Regions from separate parts of the Homo sapiens genome. Here region 2 is linked to region 1. Evidence: fine-mapped QTL for protein levels in blood plasma. Region 1 holds a variant in brackets. A gene starts in the other region. All regions are shown on their reverse strands.

Region 1 (9,528 bases):
GCTGTGGGATGGGCCAGGTGCTTCACCCAGCTGTGCCTCCTGTGAGGCACAGTGTGTGCAAAATGGAAATGTGAACATGAAGATCAAAAATGTCCCTCAATGACCAGTGCTGTTCCTCAGAGTCACGTGGGAACTCATAGAAAGCGATATTGGTACTGCTCTTTCCTCTGTAGCATGGTCCAGATGGCTCATAGCAGGGACCATGATATGCTGGGTGAGCACCCACTGCATGCACCCACTGTGCCAGCACTGAGAGACTCCTGTGGGAGCCACAGCAATTCTAGGGTCTTCACTGGGGACTCTGAGACAGCAGGGAGCTAGGATGAGGGCTGCAGAGTGTTCGTCTGCCCTCACTGAGCAGACCCCCTGGATGGCAGGGAGCAGTCCCAAGCCAGATGGATGCCCATAACCAGCCATTTGGCTCTCAATACATAATATCACCACGTATCAGGCAAAACCATCCTGCCCAGAGCATTATCTGAATTTGCATCCCATCTGCAGAAGATACATTCACCCACTTCTTCCATTCTGTCTTAATCAAAGTCTTTATGTGAATTTTCCCCATTGAGAAGACAAGCCCCTTCCTGGCTTAGACTGTACCTGACTGATCTTTTCATGAGCTCCTTGCCAAGCCAGACCACCCCCAGCTTATATGGAGACTTGGTGCAAATTAGAGATGCCCCTGTGCACGTGGCAGCCCTGAGCCCAAGCACCCAGTAAGGCAAAGGGCCTGATTTGGGACCCCTCTGCCACTCCACCAGGCAATCAGTTGCTTATTTCTAACTTTCCCTTCCTTCTCCACATTTGTCCCATTCCTTCCTCTCATCATGAATATCCCCAGAGGCATTCAGCAGTGCAGTGAATTAAATATAGAACTTTTTTTTTTCAGAATTGCAGAACGGATTAGATCAATATTAATCCAAACAGAGCAATGAGCCTGACAGTTTAGTAAAAGCTCAATAAAGGGTGGCTTACCTCCCCCAAAATAATCTGAAAAGAAAGCATGTCTTATTTCAGGGGGAAAAAAAAATAAAGTGACCTTTAAAGACCAAATTCCCAGGATACCCAGGGTGGAGGTGGAACATGGGAGTCCACAGGCAGCCTGGATGTTTCCAAAGATCCAAAGGGCTTTTGCTTCCTCACATAATGCAGGAAACAAATTGAACATGTATTAAGTGCTTGCTGTATGTGACACACTGTGCCAGGTGCTCCCCTTAAAACAGTTCTGTGGGCAGGCATGAGAATGAATCCCGATCTTACAGACAAGGAATGTTAGGCTCAGAGGTTTCAAGCTCACCCATCACTCAGCCAGAGAGGACAGATGCAGGATTCAATCTCGGGAGTGCCCGAGTCCACAGAAGTTCCTGTGCTGAAGGACCGACCACAGGCACATAAAGAGATGCGAGACAATTTTTACTGGATTTGGCCACCTCTCGAGGTCGGCTTTGCCAGCTCTTCTCACTGGGGGAAGGGGAGGGAGAAAGTAGCTAGCTCCAGGGTCCCTAACATAGAACCACCAAGGACTTGACTATTTTTACTCATACAGCAGCTTGTCTGGGAAGATCATGCTCTGTGACAAGCTGCAGGCACTAAGTAGCAATTTCTGTTTCCCACATATTAGCTTGAGTCATATAAAACTGACATGGATGTGGCTCAAAAATAGCTGTATGTCAGCCATTTTATACCATTTGACTTAAATGTTATTAATTAACGTCACAGCCAGAGATTATTCTCTGAGAAAAGGGCATTGTAGCCTGAAGCAGAGAAAGCATACACGTTCCCTGGGGTTGAGAACTCATCACAGCCTGAGACAGCTTAGGTTGTAAAGCCCCGGCCCACTTATCCCAGGAGAGTCTGGGTGAGATGCAGGCCCCAAAGCAGAGGCTGGGAAGCGAGAAGTGACACACCCTGGCTGGGTGGGCCCTCATCTTGGTGAGACACCACCTGGGTAAAACCATCATGGAAAGGGTGTAGTGGGGCGTGGAAACTCCCTCGGTTAAAGCGTGAGCTTTGCTGTAAGTTGTGGTAAGGAGGGAGGCAGTGACAACCAGGAGGCCTGTTTTGAGGGTTTCTGAGGGACCCATCTGTGGTATCACGAGGAGACGCCCAGAGGAGCCGTGTGAAAGGGCTGCCTCCCAGCCGGCTCTGGAGTGAATGAGCAGCAAGTCCTGGCTGCGAAAAGAAGGGGAGTGCAGCCTGCAGAAGTGTCTTCTTTTTTCAATTCCTGCTCAGAAGGAAACAGGAGATAAGAATAGTGGGGAAGTCCAAACCAAAGTGAACTATAGGGCTGGTAATCGTAGGGGGAATTAGTCACCCGGAGACTAGCCCAGCAGACTAACGGAGCCCCATCCTCCATCTTGAATCAGTCAGCCCCTCTATGACTGCAGAGTCCTGAATGATGGCAACACCTTCTCTTCACTTAGCGTTGTAGGATGACCAACAGTCCTGATTTGCCTGGGACTGAGGGGTTCCCAATAGATGGGACTTTCAGGGCTAAAACCAGGAAAGTCCTGGGCAGCCCAAAACAAGGTAGTCACTCTAGAGTGTATGACTCTGTCTGATACCTGCTAAGAAAGAGAAGGACTTGTTGATTATAAGGAGAAGAGGAGGTGAAATGGTTCTCAAAAAACAAAGATGAGGGCTTCCGGGTGCTGTTCTGCCCAAGGCTCTGGGTCTGAGGCTTCTCTCTCCAGGCCTAGCTTCATGGAAAAGTAAGGGGCCAGAGGGTGGAAAAGGTGGAAACAAAGGAAGAGGATGGAGAATTGCTTTGGGGAAGTTTGGACTGGAAGTGTGAATTACAGCTGCACCCCCAATTCACCCCATCTCACCCCCCTCCCCCTCCTGCTCATGGTTCTCCCTTTCTCATCCACACATTGGTCAAACTAGCTAGCTTTTGGAGAGATTTTGGGCAGTAAAAGTAAAACAGATCTGTCTCAAGCTTCAAAAAGCCTAGAGCTGGCTGGGCGCTGTGGCTCACGCCTGTAATCCTAGCATTTTGGGAGGCTGAGGCGGAAGGATAATCTGAGGTCAGGAGTTTGAGACCAGCCTGGCTAACATGATGAAACCCCATCTCTACTAAAAATACAAAAATTAGCCAGGCGTGGTAGTGCACGCCTATAATCCCAGCTATTTGGGAGGCTGAGGCAGGAGAATCGCTTGAACCCCAGGGGACAGAGGTTGCAGTGAGCTGAGATCGCACCACTGCACTCCAGCCTGGGTGACACAGCGAGACTCCATTTAAAAAAAAAAAAATGCCTAGAGCCAAATGCTCACAGAGCCATTTACTGCATGGCTTTGGGCAAGTCAAAGGAGTCCGCCTCTCCTGTCAGAAGAGTCTGTTGCAGTCTTCATCACAAGACTGTTGTGGGGATTAAACAAGATGGCAAGTGGGAAGTTGGGAAATGTAGTGTGCACCCAACCAATATTTGTTTCTTCCTGCCTGCCTACATATGAGGCCACACAGAATTCCAACTTTGTTTCTCTGATAACTAACACAGTTACTTGTTTTTCTTTCTGATCCAGGCCTTCACCATGGATCAGTTCCCTGAATCAGTGACAGAAAACTTTGAGTACGATGATTTGGCTGAGGCCTGTTATATTGGGGACATCGTGGTCTTTGGGACTGTGTTCCTGTCCATATTCTACTCCGTCATCTTTGCCATTGGCCTGGTGGGAAATTTGTTGGTAGTGTTTGCCCTCACCAACAGCAAGAAGCCCAAGAGTGTCACCGACATTTACCTCCTGAACCTGGCCTTGTCTGATCTGCTGTTTGTAGCCACTTTGCCCTTCTGGACTCACTATTTGATAAATGAAAAGGGCCTCCACAATGCCATGTGCAAATTCACTACCGCCTTCTTCTTCATCGGCTTTTTTGGAAGCATATTCTTCATCACCGTCATCAGCATTGATAGGTACCTGGCCATCGTCCTGGCCGCCAACTCCATGAACAACCGGACCGTGCAGCATGGCGTCACCATCAGCCTAGGCGTCTGGGCAGCAGCCATTTTGGTGGCAGCACCCCAGTTCATGTTCACAAAGCAGAAAGAAAATGAATGCCTTGGTGACTACCCCGAGGTCCTCCAGGAAATCTGGCCCGTGCTCCGCAATGTGGAAACAAATTTTCTTGGCTTCCTACTCCCCCTGCTCATTATGAGTTATTGCTACTTCAGAATCATCCAGACGCTGTTTTCCTGCAAGAACCACAAGAAAGCCAAAGCCATTAAACTGATCCTTCTGGTGGTCATCGTGTTTTTCCTCTTCTGGACACCCTACAACGTTATGATTTTCCTGGAGACGCTTAAGCTCTATGACTTCTTTCCCAGTTGTGACATGAGGAAGGATCTGAGGCTGGCCCTCAGTGTGACTGAGA[C/T]GGTTGCATTTAGCCATTGTTGCCTGAATCCTCTCATCTATGCATTTGCTGGGGAGAAGTTCAGAAGATACCTTTACCACCTGTATGGGAAATGCCTGGCTGTCCTGTGTGGGCGCTCAGTCCACGTTGATTTCTCCTCATCTGAATCACAAAGGAGCAGGCATGGAAGTGTTCTGAGCAGCAATTTTACTTACCACACGAGTGATGGAGATGCATTGCTCCTTCTCTGAAGGGAATCCCAAAGCCTTGTGTCTACAGAGAACCTGGAGTTCCTGAACCTGATGCTGACTAGTGAGGAAAGATTTTTGTTGTTATTTCTTACAGGCACAAAATGATGGACCCAATGCACACAAAACAACCCTAGAGTGTTGTTGAGAATTGTGCTCAAAATTTGAAGAATGAACAAATTGAACTCTTTGAATGACAAAGAGTAGACATTTCTCTTACTGCAAATGTCATCAGAACTTTTTGGTTTGCAGATGACAAAAATTCAACTCAGACTAGTTTAGTTAAATGAGGGTGGTGAATATTGTTCATATTGTGGCACAAGCAAAAGGGTGTCTGAGCCCTCAAAGTGAGGGGAAACCAGGGCCTGAGCCAAGCTAGAATTCCCTCTCTCTGACTCTCAAATCTTTTAGTCATTATAGATCCCCCAGACTTTACATGACACAGCTTTATCACCAGAGAGGGACTGACACCCATGTTTCTCTGGCCCCAAGGGCAAAATTCCCAGGGAAGTGCTCTGATAGGCCAAGTTTGTATCAGGTGCCCATCCCTGGAAGGTGCTGTTATCCATGGGGAAGGGATATATAAGATGGAAGCTTCCAGTCCAATCTCATGGAGAAGCAGAAATACATATTTCCAAGAAGTTGGATGGGTGGGTACTATTCTGATTACACAAAACAAATGCCACACATCACCCTTACCATGTGCCTGATCCAGCCTCTCCCCTGATTACACCAGCCTCGTCTTCATTAAGCCCTCTTCCATCATGTCCCCAAACCTGCAAGGGCTCCCCACTGCCTACTGCATCGAGTCAAAACTCAAATGCTTGGCTTCTCATACGTCCACCATGGGGTCCTACCAATAGATTCCCCATTGCCTCCTCCTTCCCAAAGGACTCCACCCATCCTATCAGCCTGTCTCTTCCATATGACCTCATGCATCTCCACCTGCTCCCAGGCCAGTAAGGGAAATAGAAAAACCCTGCCCCCAAATAAGAAGGGATGGATTCCAACCCCAACTCCAGTAGCTTGGGACAAATCAAGCTTCAGTTTCCTGGTCTGTAGAAGAGGGATAAGGTACCTTTCACATAGAGATCATCCTTTCCAGCATGAGGAACTAGCCACCAACTCTTGCAGGTCTCAACCCTTTTGTCTGCCTCTTAGACTTCTGCTTTCCACACCTGGCACTGCTGTGCTGTGCCCAAGTTGTGGTGCTGACAAAGCTTGGAAGAGCCTGCAGGTGCTGCTGCGTGGCATAGCCCAGACACAGAAGAGGCTGGTTCTTACGATGGCACCCAGTGAGCACTCCCAAGTCTACAGAGTGATAGCCTTCCGTAACCCAACTCTCCTGGACTGCCTTGAATATCCCCTCCCAGTCACCTTGTGGCAAGCCCCTGCCCATCTGGGAAAATACCCCATCATTCATGCTACTGCCAACCTGGGGAGCCAGGGCTATGGGAGCAGCTTTTTTTTCCCCCCTAGAAACGTTTGGAACAATCTAAAAGTTTAAAGCTCGAAAACAATTGTAATAATGCTAAAGAAAAAGTCATCCAATCTAACCACATCAATATTGTCATTCCTGTATTCACCCGTCCAGACCTTGTTCACACTCTCACATGTTTAGAGTTGCAATCGTAATGTACAGATGGTTTTATAATCTGATTTGTTTTCCTCTTAACGTTAGACCACAAATAGTGCTCGCTTTCTATGTAGTTTGGTAATTATCATTTTAGAAGACTCTACCAGACTGTGTATTCATTGAAGTCAGATGTGGTAACTGTTAAATTGCTGTGTATCTGATAGCTCTTTGGCAGTCTATATGTTTGTATAATGAATGAGAGAATAAGTCATGTTCCTTCAAGATCATGTACCCCAATTTACTTGCCATTACTCAATTGATAAACATTTAACTTGTTTCCAATGTTTAGCAAATACATATTTTATAGAACTTCCATCTGTGTAATCTTCTTTCTCCTATTCAATTATTTCCTGTGGTTAAATTCATTGCCATGGGGAAAACTGAGTCAAAGGGCATGGGAACACATTATCTTTGCATACACACATATGAAAGTCATATATTACACAACCTTTACTGAGTCGTATTATATACAAAACATGAACGCAGATCCAGAGCTATTCCAAAGGCAATGAGACCAAGCCTCTTCCCTCAATAATTTAAATGCAGAAGAGAAGTGAAGGAATAATCACGCTTTGCATTAGGTGGTAGCAGAGGAGTACTACGTGACTTCTGACCTGCGTCTTTAAGGGACAGGGGTTCTCCAGGTAAAGAAAGAGGTGGCATTCCAGGCTGAGGAAACAGCATGTATAAAGGAAGTGTGTGAGAGCCACAATGTGAGAAAACTCTGTGCGAATATTAAAAGGCGTTAGAAGCGGAGTGGGTGGTAGGAACTTTCTGAGCTGAGCTGTTAGCTGTGGGCTGAGCTAAAACAACCAATGGAGGGGGTGCTGGTTCTCCTCAGGGTGTTTACGGGGTTTCTTCGTTATTACCTGATCCTCATTCCAACTGTTGAACCATAAGACTTTTAATTAAAGTTTAACCTATTCCTGGACTTCTAAGAAGGAGGAAATAATTATTTTGGCTTGAGAAATAAAAGAAGAGAAATAAACACTTTCATTTCTAGAAGAAAATTAAATTTGTAACATTAGGAACCTATATTTATTCATTCATTTTGCTGAATAGGACAGAATAGGGAGAAAATAAGGAAGCTCATTGAAAAATCCAAAATAGCAAGGATGTTGGTGTCTAAATAAAGGAAGGCATTTTTGGAAAGGACAGCTGGCCCTCAGAGCACACCTGAATCAGACCCACTCCTGCTTCTGAGGTCTGGGCTTCCCAAGAGCAGAGGGATCTGCCTGTGATGAATCCCGACATATTAACTCTCTGCTTCGGCAGGTTGCTTAACATCTCTGAGGCTCAATCTCCTCATCAGAAAAATAAAGATAAAAGTAGTTCCCACCTGGTAGGGTTGGAGCAGAGGATTCAGTAAGATTACCCCTGCAAAGATCACAGTGCAGAACTGGCAAAGCAAGCTCGAGTGAATGGTGGTGATTATTTTTATACTTATTATTTTTAATATTAGACTGAGCTTTCCCCAGCAACTAAACACATGCTATCTTGTACTTGCCTTTTGCTTTTCTTAGTAGCAGAATCACAGACTCTTGGGTGGTTGGAGATAACTGGGTCCAAATCCACATTTCGTGGGTAAGAAAATGGAGGCTCAGAGAGGGCCAGCAGGTGCCCCAAGATGCCACAGTGAATTACTGGGAGAGGTAGATCCTTGATTCACAGTCTACCATCTCCTTCCTCATCTTGATAAAAATACAGATCAATCTGACCTCTAAGAGCAGAGAACACAGAAGGAAGGTCTGCAGGCAGATAATGAGGCAGGGAAAAGCAGCCCACAAGATAGCTGAAGAGTTTAACAGAATCAATCTGCACATGGACAGGTGTGTGCTGTGTGGCACAGCCTTTGGCAATTGCCTTTTGGAGACATCTGTATCTGCAATGATAGATGGTGTCAACTGAGACTCATCAGCAAAGGCTGCAGAATTCCCAGAGGCAAATGCTATCAGTGGCTTCCAAGAGGATCTGGGTGGGTGGGTCAAGACTTAGACAGACAGGCCACTGTGGAGGGACAGCCACACCCAGGGGCTGCCCAGTGCTTGGGTAAAATGCTGAATCCCTTCCACATAATTCCACTCACTTCATGCTTATTCTATGGTCATTTAATGACATTCTAAGAGAATGTCTCCTTCCCAGGGACCTTGCCATCAAGAAAGATGGAGCATATAGGCTTTCGGTTACTAAGAAGAGCTATCAACCCTTGTAATCCATTGCACCTAGAGTGTGTACAGGGTCTCATGGTTTTTCCATTCACCTCTCTCTGAGATGCTGTCCCTGAGCATCCAGGGAGAGAGTTCACCCAACAACTACACCTGGGAGCATAAGAGCCTGATTGAGAGGTCCACCTTGGGTAGTACCCGGGCCCAAGATGATGCCCATTTGTGCCTTCAAAATTGGAGCAGTTTGTCCTAACTCAGCAGCTAATTTTTTCTCCACCTGCACCGTACTCACTGGCCCATGGGGACCACTTCAGTTTCAACATGATTTGTAATATTGTTTGCTTAACTTGCTGAGTTGGCAACAAAATTTTGGGCTACTCAAAAGTAGTGTGATCTGAGAGCAAGTGAGAAAAGCGAGTCTTAGCAAATTTAGAAATATCCAGTTTCTCTTCAATATACTCTTCATCCACAGGAGGGCCAAGGGCCAAGTCGTTTTCTGAGGGATGTGTGGCATCGTGCTTCTATTTCCGTTACATTACAGCAGTTGTTAGGCAACAGGGAGTGTTCCTCCAGACACACCCGGGGCAGCGCTGGCAACCGCAAAACATGCTCAGCAGGAAGATTACTCTTTTACTCCATATTTCCTTATTTACTGAGATAGAAACAAAAATAACATTTTAATTTGCATTTCTTTGAATACTAGGTAAGATTGTTCATTTTTCAAGGCGTTTGTTTTAAATTATTTGTACATTTTTCTGATTCTAAAAGAAAGATACTCAGTATAGAAAACATGAAAAATATACAATTTAAAATTAAAAATGTTTAATTACACAATATTCAACCTCCCAGAGATAACTGTGGTTTAACACTGAAGTTATTTTCTGCTATGACCATATTTTAAAAAAAATACATAAGAATAGACATTTTTCAAAAGAAGACACACGAATGGCCAACAGGTAAGTGGAAAAATGTTCAACATTTCTAATTATTAGGAAAATGCAAATTAAAATCACAATGAGATATATCTCAGATTTGTCAGAATGGCTTTTATCAAAAAGACAAAAGATAATAAATGTCAGCAAGAACGTGGCAGAAGGGGAACTGTTGTGAACTGTTGGTAGAAATATGAAT
Region 2 (8,784 bases), not on the chromosome of region 1:
TAACCAGGATATAAAAGTCACTGTGTGGGCTGGCCACCCTCCTTCTGCAATGGAACCTCAGACTGACTCACCTGCAGCCTCCCCAGGCCCTATTGAGTGGAGCCAGGTGGCAGTCCCCTAAAATGGCCTGCAGGTGTCTTCTTTGGGAAGCCCCAGAAAATACGGTGCCCCTGAGTGACCAGAGACAGGAGGAGGCAAGGGAGGCTGCCCAATGGATAGGAAAGAAGGTCCATTCTGTGCTCCCCAAATCCAAGATGGGAAAAGCCATTGCCCACCTCCAGGGCTTTAAAGAGCCACAGAGTCATCCTGTCTCCAAAGTCCCCACCCTCTGCCACGGTCCCTGAATGGTCCTGGCCCGGCTCAGTTCTTGGTTCTGCCAGGAAGATTGTTTAACTGACCTGGGGAGCCTGTCCCTTCTCAGAGCTGAAATTTTCCTTTCTGTAAATGGAGACAATGCCTCATCCAGCCAGTCATATATTATCTGTCATAGGAGTGTCAGGAAGGCAGGGACCTTGTCTGTCTTGGTATCATAGTTTCCCAGCATCAAGCACAAGGTGGATACTCAATCAATATTCATTGAATGAAATTAGTCTCAGTTTACTTATCTCTCTTTAATGCATCTATCTACCTATCCATCCACCCGTCCACCCACTCTTATCAATCTTCTACCCATTCCTCGCCCACCTGCCACCTCCTGCCCAACCCCTATTCATCTCCATTCATCCATCTACCCACTCCCTCTCCCCTACCTACCACCTGTCAATCTTCCGCCCCCTTTTATCTCACCTACTCATCCATCCCTCATCATCCCCTCCCCATCCCTTCTTCCATCCATCCATCTGTCCATCCATCCACCCATCCATCCATCCATCCATTCATCCATCTATCCACCCATCCATCCATCCATCCATCCATCCATCCATCCATCCATCCATCCATCCACTTCCTGATTCAGCCAACACTGGCTGGAATTACTTTTGAGTATATACAAAAATCTCAGGCCCTCTTATCCTTAACCTTGAGCTCTTTCTCCCATAGGCACTGGTGCTGAGTTTGAAGAGAGTGCTTCCATCCCAATAAATGCCATCAGATCACTCTGTTTATTCAGTCAACCAACAAATGCTGGTTCCTCTTGCCAGGCCCTGTGCTGGGTGCTGTGAGGTACAGTGAGATGAACAAGGAATGCCTCTGGCCTCAGAAGGCTCCCAGCCTGATGGACAGGTAAATTAGGCACACAAAGTATCAGAGGTTTTATTTATTTTTTTTAATTGAACACCTACTGTGTATTGGACCCTGTGTCCAGCATGTACACATCTGCTCTCTTTAATTCCCAACATTCCTGCAAAGGGAGTATTATCCCAACTTTACAGATGCAGAAGCTGGAAATAAGAGAGGCTAAATGTGCCCAGTGCCACACAGCTGCATGGTGGCAGAGCTAGTTTTCTACTCAGCCCCTAAACACCCCACTGTTCTAGGCTACCCTAGATGCCAGGTAGAAACACAGTGTTCCAGAACATACCACAAACATATTGGGGTTTACATGAGGGAGAGACCACTTCCAACTTCAAATGGTCAGGGGAGGCTTCTTGGAGGAATTCTCCTTTAGGCTGGACCTCAAGGACTTCTAAGAGTCTTCCAGGGTCTTAGAAGGAGACTCAGGAAATGTCCTGGGTTGCTGGATGAGGTGATAAAGGGAGGGCTTGAGCCATTGCCCAGCTGTGTGTCCTGAGCAAGTCACTCGGACTCCCTGAGCCTCAGTTTCCTTACTTGTAAAATGGATGTGACAATACCTGCTTCACAGTGTGGTTGTGAGAATAAGAATTTTTTAACTTCTGGAGCATTTTTCCCTTAGGGCAAGGTTTCTCAACAGTGACACTACTGACATTTTGGACCAGACAATTCTTTGTTTTGGGGGCTGTCCCGGGTACTATAGGAGGTTTGGCAGCATCTCTGGCCTCTACACACTAGAGGCGAGTAGCTCAACTGAACCAAAAACATTGGGATATTTGTAACAAGTAAAAAATTTCTCTAGAAATTGCCAAATGGCCCATAGGGGAGCAAAATTACTCACTGAGGACCATTGCTCTAGAGATATCCACATGGCTCCCGCCCTCACCCCGCTCCAAACTGTGCAAAGCCACCTACTCAGTGGGCTTCCCTAACCCCCTATTTAAAATGTCAACACCTCTCTTCTCCCCTCTCTATTTTTCTTTTTCTTTTCTTTTCTTTCTTTTTTTTTTTTTTAAATGGACTCTCACTCTGTCACCCAGGCTGGAGTGCAGTGACACGATCTCGGCTCACTCCAACCTCTGCCTCCCAGGTTCAAGCGATTCTCTTGCCTCAGCCTCCCAAGTAGCTGGGACTACAGGCATGCACCACCACACCCAGCTAATTTTATATTTTTAGTAGAGACAGGGTTTCATGATGTTGGCCAGGCTGGTCTTGAACTCCTGACGTCAGGTGATCTGCCCGCCTTGGCCTCCCAATGTGCTGGGATTACAGGCATGAGCCCCTGCGCCCAGCCACCCCTCTCTATTTTTTTATCACAGTGCCTTTTCTCCTTCCAACAGACCACATTGTTTACTGATTTACTTTGTGTGTTATGTGTCCTCTGCAGTTGAATTACAGCACCTCGAGGGCTGAGGTCCTTGGCTGTTTTATTTATTGATGCCGCCCCAGTACCTAGAACCAGGTTTGTCACACAGTAGGTGTCCAATAACTATTTGTTGAATGAATGGACAAAATGCCTAAGGAAGCGCTTTGTGGCATAATACCTTAACCAACAGAAAAATGGAGGAATTTTTATTTAAATTAGACAGGGGCCTGGATCTGACACTCTTGAATTTATCCTCCCATGCCCTCCCCATCCACCCCCACTGCTAATGAGGCGGGTAGGCTATAGGAGCTTAAAACAGATTCGTTTTTTTTTCTCTTTCTTGCCAGGACTTGAGTGGGAGTGAATGCGTCAGCTCTTGGAGTGGGGGGGCAATGCTCTGCACTGACTCGTAGCTGCAGGTTTGTTATATAAAGTACAGAAGCCTCCTGCCTGACACAGCCCCACAAACCCACATTTGGGGACTGACGCAGCTGCCCCACACTAGTCAGGGCAGCAGCTACGAACCCCCCAGCCTCCTCTCGGGGTCTCTCTGGCTTCCAAACCACCCCCTTGTCCTACAGGGGCTCCCGAGGGCCTCTCAGAGCCATACATGTCAGCGTGGGAGAGGACTTCCAAGGTGAGCCTGGTCAAATGCCTAGTTTTACAGGAGGAGAAAGTGAGGCTGAGAAAGGTTCCAATAATGCCCAGGATCTTCCAGTAAAGCCAATGACCAAGATGAGGGCAGAAGCCTGGTTCTAAAGCCTCAGGCTGCTAGTCTGAGCACCCAGGGTCCCCCAGTGTCCCCTTTCCATCCTAGCCTAGGACCCTTCCCTCTCTCAGCTTAGTAAAAGTAATCCTCCTCCTCCGCCCTCTTCAAAACACCTCCATAGGCATTGGAACCTCGTCACCCTCCCCCAATCCACCGGAGAGGTAATAGCTATATTTAAAGATGCAGCAACTGGGACCAGAGGAGGCAAGACCCTGCTCACGGTCACATAACAGGACTGTGGCAAAGCAGCCGCCATCTGACTCCCTGCTTTCCAGATCTCACTGTCCGCAGACACCTCAGGCTTCAGGGCCCCAGCCCAGACAGCAGGAAGCCAGCAGGAATTTGCCTCCACCACTCTCACGTGCCCACCCACCCACACACCTGCTCCCTGCCCCAGGGTGAGTTTGCTCCATGGAAATATCTGGACAGTGGGGACTACTTCTCATTCTCCCAGACTTGCTGTGTGCCCACCTTCTCTGAAGGTCACCCTGCCAGATGGTGGGGGCACTCCCTGAGGAGGGGGCTGGCTAGCGGTTCATGGAGGTGATGTGGCCCACAGAGGTGGTGAGTGTGCATCTGTGCTCTCTCCTGCATTCAGTCCCATGTGTCTTACCTTCTCCTGCCCTACTTGCTGGCTGTGCATTGTCAGGCCAGTTTCTAAACCTCTCTGGGCCTCCATCTTATCCATATCAGGTAGGATGGTTAATTATGTACCCCTACCAGGTCCTGGGCTTCAGTAAGCAAGTGACTAGAGGCAAAAGCATTTTCTACACTGTGCTTGGAGGAGGAAGACAGCATGACGGGTAGACACAGGCAGAGCAACTGGGGCTATAGACTAGCACAGCAGTGGCAAGCCCCAACCATGAGCTGCAGTGACCTTGACCTTCACTGGTCCTGGGCCCCCTAATCCTGGGGGCTTTGAAAACAGGACAGGAGAAAGTCCCAACTGTGGCCTGGCCCAGGGCCAGGGCTGCGGGTTACACATTAACGCTTGATGGAAAGAGCCAGCCACTGTCAGCCAGGGCCTCCCACCCCAGTGCCCAGCAGGAGCTTCTGCAGGCTCTCTCCACCCCCGCCCTCCTGGCACACCCACACCTGGCTCCCTTATGCCACCCACACCACCTCTCTGTGCTTCCAGGCACAGCCACTTTGCTCGCTGGGCCAGGCAGGGCGGTCGCTGGCAACTGGAAATCTGTCCAGCGCTGCATCTGGGGGAAGCGAGGTGCCCAGCCCCCTCTCGCACATCCCTGGGGAAGCGGCTGCCACCGGCCTTGAGCTTTACCCAGGCAGGGTCTGGGGCCCCTGATGTCAGGCTTGAGGGATAGACAAGGGGCTGGGGGCTCCCTACCCTGTTTGTGCCCAAGTCAAGCCCCACTTACCAGCCAGCAGGACAGTCAGATGGCAGAAGGTGGCCAAGCGGAGCAGCCACGACAGAGATATCGGAGCCATGGCTGAGGGTGGGCAAGAGTCCCGGCGGGGGCCAGGCAGGCGGCTAGAGCCAGGCGGCAGAGCTCAGTGCTGTCCCCTTGCCGCCGCCAGAGATCTGTGGCTTTTTATAATGGGGTTGGCTGCCTCCGCCTCCAGCCCCCGCAGGCAGGAGGGTGGGAGGGGAGAGGAAGGGAGCCAGTGTGCAGCCGCTGGATTCCTCAGGATGTTGCCAAGGAACCAAGCCGGCTTTGTGTCCCTGGGCTTCTCACCATCCTAGGCTTGTCATACTGGGACCTTCCCCGGGAGGCTGGACTGGGCCTGCCTGGGTACAAAGGCCTCCTCTCCTGCCACAAGCTGGGAACATGCCCTAGGATCTGGCCTGGGGCCCTTGATCCTAAGTGGGCAACACACAAAAGGCCAGCAGGCCGTGGAATAGAGAGCGGGGCGCCAAGGGGCCGGGAGAGACTCAGGGCCCCTCCATCCTGGGTCTGACAAGCTCTTCTTTGATCCAGAGAATGCCTCGCCCACATCAGGATGGACCCCTAAATTTCCCCTCTTAGAATCCCAAGCTCCTGGGGGACCTTGTTGATCTATGCATCTCCAGAGCCCAGCAGGGAGCCTGAAGTCAGCAGGGGCTTGGTGCAGGGTCTGCTGAAAGAAGGATTGAGTCCAACTTCATATGGATAGATGGGGAAACTGAGGCCCGGAGCCACCCCAGGTTATCCACAGCATCAGAGTGGAGAACTCCCCTCCCACCACCATGATGAGCAGAATGTGGACAGCTCAGGACCCAGGAGAGAGCCCTGGCCTCCCTGCCTCCACCTCCCGGTCTCCCGCTCCCTGCTTTGCACCCACTCCCACCTCTGCTCTGGCCCCTGTTAGCCCAAAGAACAAGGTGGCTGCCAACCCATCCCCGATAACTCTGTGGCTCTTGGCTCCTCAACTCTGTAGCCGTGGCTTGGATAAGGCTTGCCTCTCGTGGGGCCTGAGTTCTCTATCTGCCCAAAGAGAGCATTGGGCTAGTGCAATGGGGAGAGGGCTTCCCAGCACCGGCCCTCCAACAGGCTCTCACCGAAGGGTGCAGAGGCTTGCCAGCCTTGGGAGCACATTAGAACACAGTCTGCCTTCATGGCAGCCTTCCCTAAAGGCAGTGGCAACAATCCCTGAGACTCCAGAAGAGTCAGCAGCTCTGCCTTGGTATAGGACTGAGCTGTACTGGTGTCTCCAGGCTGCCAATCTGAGGGAAACCAGTTGTGGAGCCAGCATCCCACGCTATGAGCCAGTTGGGCTGGGCAGAGGGGCCACAGATCCCAAGGCCAGGGACCTCTCTCTCCTCAACCACCCCCCCCCGCCCCCCCACCCAACCCAATGGGCTGCCTGGTGCATGGGGTTAGGGGTTAGGAGGCTAGATACTTCTTGAAGTAGCGGAACACCCTTGGCAGGAGCCAAGGTCCACTCATGCTCAGAGAATCTGTCCTGGCCTGTGCACATGGGAAGCTAGTAGCCTTCTCATTCCCAATGTCCAATCCCTCTTTTTATAACTGGTGAAACTGAGGCCCAGAGAGGGACAAGGAGGGATAAAAACTGAGGTCGTGTTCTTTCTGCTCTGTTCATGTAAGAACAGAGGAGGAGGCCGAGTGCGATGGCTCACGCCTGTAATCCCAGCACTTTGGGAGGCTGAGGTGGGTGGATCACCTGAGGTCAGGAGTTCGAGGCCAGCCTGGCCAACACGGTGAAACCTCGTCTCTACTAAAAATACAAAAATTAGCTGGGTGTGGTGCACACCTGTAATCCCAGCTACTTGGGAGGCTGAGGCAGGAGAATCGCTTGAACCTGGGAGGCAGAGGGTTGCAGTGAGCCAAGATCACGCCACTGCACTCTAGCCTGGGTGACAGAGTGAGACTCTGTCTAAAAAAAAAAAAAAAAAAAGACATTTTCTTAGGTTCACCAGCCAGGAAATGAGGGATCCTGGATTCGTCCCAGCCAGCTGGCTCTGAGGTCTGAGCTCAAGACCAGTAGGGTCCACCACCTGCCTCCACCCTCACTGCGAGGACCAATGTGAAGACTAAGTGAGTTTATGTCCATAGGGTACGGGACAGAGCCTGGCATAAAATAGAAGCGAAAATGCAAAGCACGGCTCTGCTTTTCCTCATTTGACCCTTTGGACACCCTCTACCCTCCCCAGGTCCAGCTTCTACTCCCATAAAATGGGAATGATCACCCCCATCTATCTCATTAGGATGTTAAGAACTGAATTTAGATTTAATTTGGACACAATAACCAGGCTTTCAGGCTAGCCAGACCCAAGGCTAAACAGGACTCCAGGCCGGATGTGGTGGCTCACACCTGTAATCCCAGCACTTTGGGAGGCCGAGGCAGGAGGCAGAGGCAGATTCCCGGGAATCTGAGACCAGCCTGGCAAAACCCCCTCTCTACAAACATGGTGAAACCCCCTCCCTACAAAAAATATACGAAAATTAGTGTGGTGGCCTGTGCCTGCAGTCCCAGCTGCTCAGGAGGCTAAAGTGGAAGGATCAAGTGAGCCTGGGGAGGTTGAGGCTGCATTGAGCCATGATCATGCCACTGCACTCCAGCTTGGGCACAGAGTGGGACCCTATCTGAAAAAAAATAAATAAATACATCAGCAGGACTCCACCACGGATAAGGGGTGTTCCCTTGGGCAAGTGACTTAACCTCTCTCTGCATTTCAGCTTCCCTATATGTAAAATGGGATGCAAACAGCCACCTCATCAAGCCACCACGACAGTGAATAAAACTAAGGACTTTCACAGTGCCTGGCACGCAGGAGGCATTAGTATCTGTTATTGAGCCCGGTGTGTGCCAGGCAATGTGGTGGGATGGGGGACACAAAGGCAAGTGAGCTGAAGTCCTTGCCCCCAGGAGCTGTAGCTCAGTAGGAGAGAGAAGTTGCCAGCCCTACCAGAGGGCTAGAGGCTGTGGGCTCGGGCAGGAAGGGAGAACTGCATGCTTGTTGGGGAAACAAGAAAGGTGGGTGAGAGAGATGATCTTTCCATCTGAAGATGGGCAGAATTTTGCTTTGTCTCTTTAAAATTTCTGTTTTGGAAAATATTCAACAATACAAAAGAAAGAATCGTACAAAGACTTTCAAATCTCCACCAATGGCTGGGCGCAGTGGCTCACGCCTATAATCCCAGCACTTTGGGAGGCCGAGGTGGGTGGATCACCAGAGCTCAGGAGTTGGAGACCAGCCTGGCCAACATGGTGAAACCCCGTCTCTACTAAAAATACAAAAAATTAGCTGAGTGTGGTGGCGGGTGCCTGTAATCTCAGCTACTTGGGAGGCTGGGAGAGAATTGCTTGAACTCGGGAGGCAGAGGTTGCGGTGAGCCGAGATTGCACCACTGCACTCCAGCCTGGGCAACAAGAGAGAAACTCTGCCTCAAACAAACAAACAAACAAACAAACAAAACCTCTACCACCAATGATTAGCATTTTTTAATATTTGTTTTATCTTTTTTATTTTTATTTTTTAGCCAAACCATTACAAAGTAAATTATAGATGCTTGACACTTTTCCCCTAAATATTCCAGCATGCATCTCCTTAGAATAAAGCTATTGTCTTACATACATGTAATATCATTATCCCATCTAACAAAATTAACAATAATTCCTGTATGTCATCTAACACCCAGTTCATACCCAAATTTCTCCAATTGTCCCCAAAATGTATTTTGTGGTTTCTCCTCTCTCCCTCTTTCCTTCTTCCTGCCTCCTTTCTTCTCTCCCTCACTCCCTTTCTTTTTTATTTTATTCATTTATTTTTATTTTATTTTATTTTATTTTATTTTTTGAGACGGAATCTCGCTCTGTCACCCAGGCTGGAGTGCAGTGGCGCCGTCCCGGCTCACTGCAAGCTCTGCCTCCTGGGTTCACGCCATTCTCCTGCCTCAGCCTCCCAAATATAGCTGGGACTACAGGCGCACGCCGCCACACCCAGTTAATTTTTTTT

Direction of the effects. Alleles are on the strand shown, and positions count from the first base shown. The strength of an association depends on the size of the effect and on how common the allele is.
For the plasma level of the protein whose gene starts at base 4,893 in region 2, C is the low allele of the variant in region 1 and T is the other (weak association).

Evidence for each region. PIP is the chance, under the fine-mapping model, that this variant and not a neighbour inherited with it causes the effect. The UK Biobank Pharma Proteomics Project read protein levels with antibody pairs (Olink). The fine-mapping took linkage between variants from a reference panel, not from the people measured, so its PIPs are less certain.
Region 2: CX3CL1 starts here. The variant in region 1 is fine-mapped to the plasma level of the CX3CL1 protein (UK Biobank, PIP above 0.99).

The regions. Positions count from the first base shown.
Region 1 is chr3:39,260,513-39,270,040 of GRCh38, reverse strand. It overlaps CX3CR1 (C-X3-C motif chemokine receptor 1), which reads left to right. Exons shown (of 2, transcript NM_001337.4): 2 at 3,523-6,545. The coding sequence starts at 3,532. The coding sequence ends at 4,599. Among named protein-coding and RNA genes, the nearest start is that of CX3CR1, 15 kb to the left of the region's middle. The variant C/T (reference allele first, on the strand shown) is at 4,370.
Region 2 is chr16:57,368,599-57,377,382 of GRCh38, reverse strand. CX3CL1 (C-X3-C motif chemokine ligand 1) reads right to left here and starts at 4,893. Exons shown (of 3, transcript NM_002996.6): 1 at 4,745-4,893. The coding sequence starts at 4,814.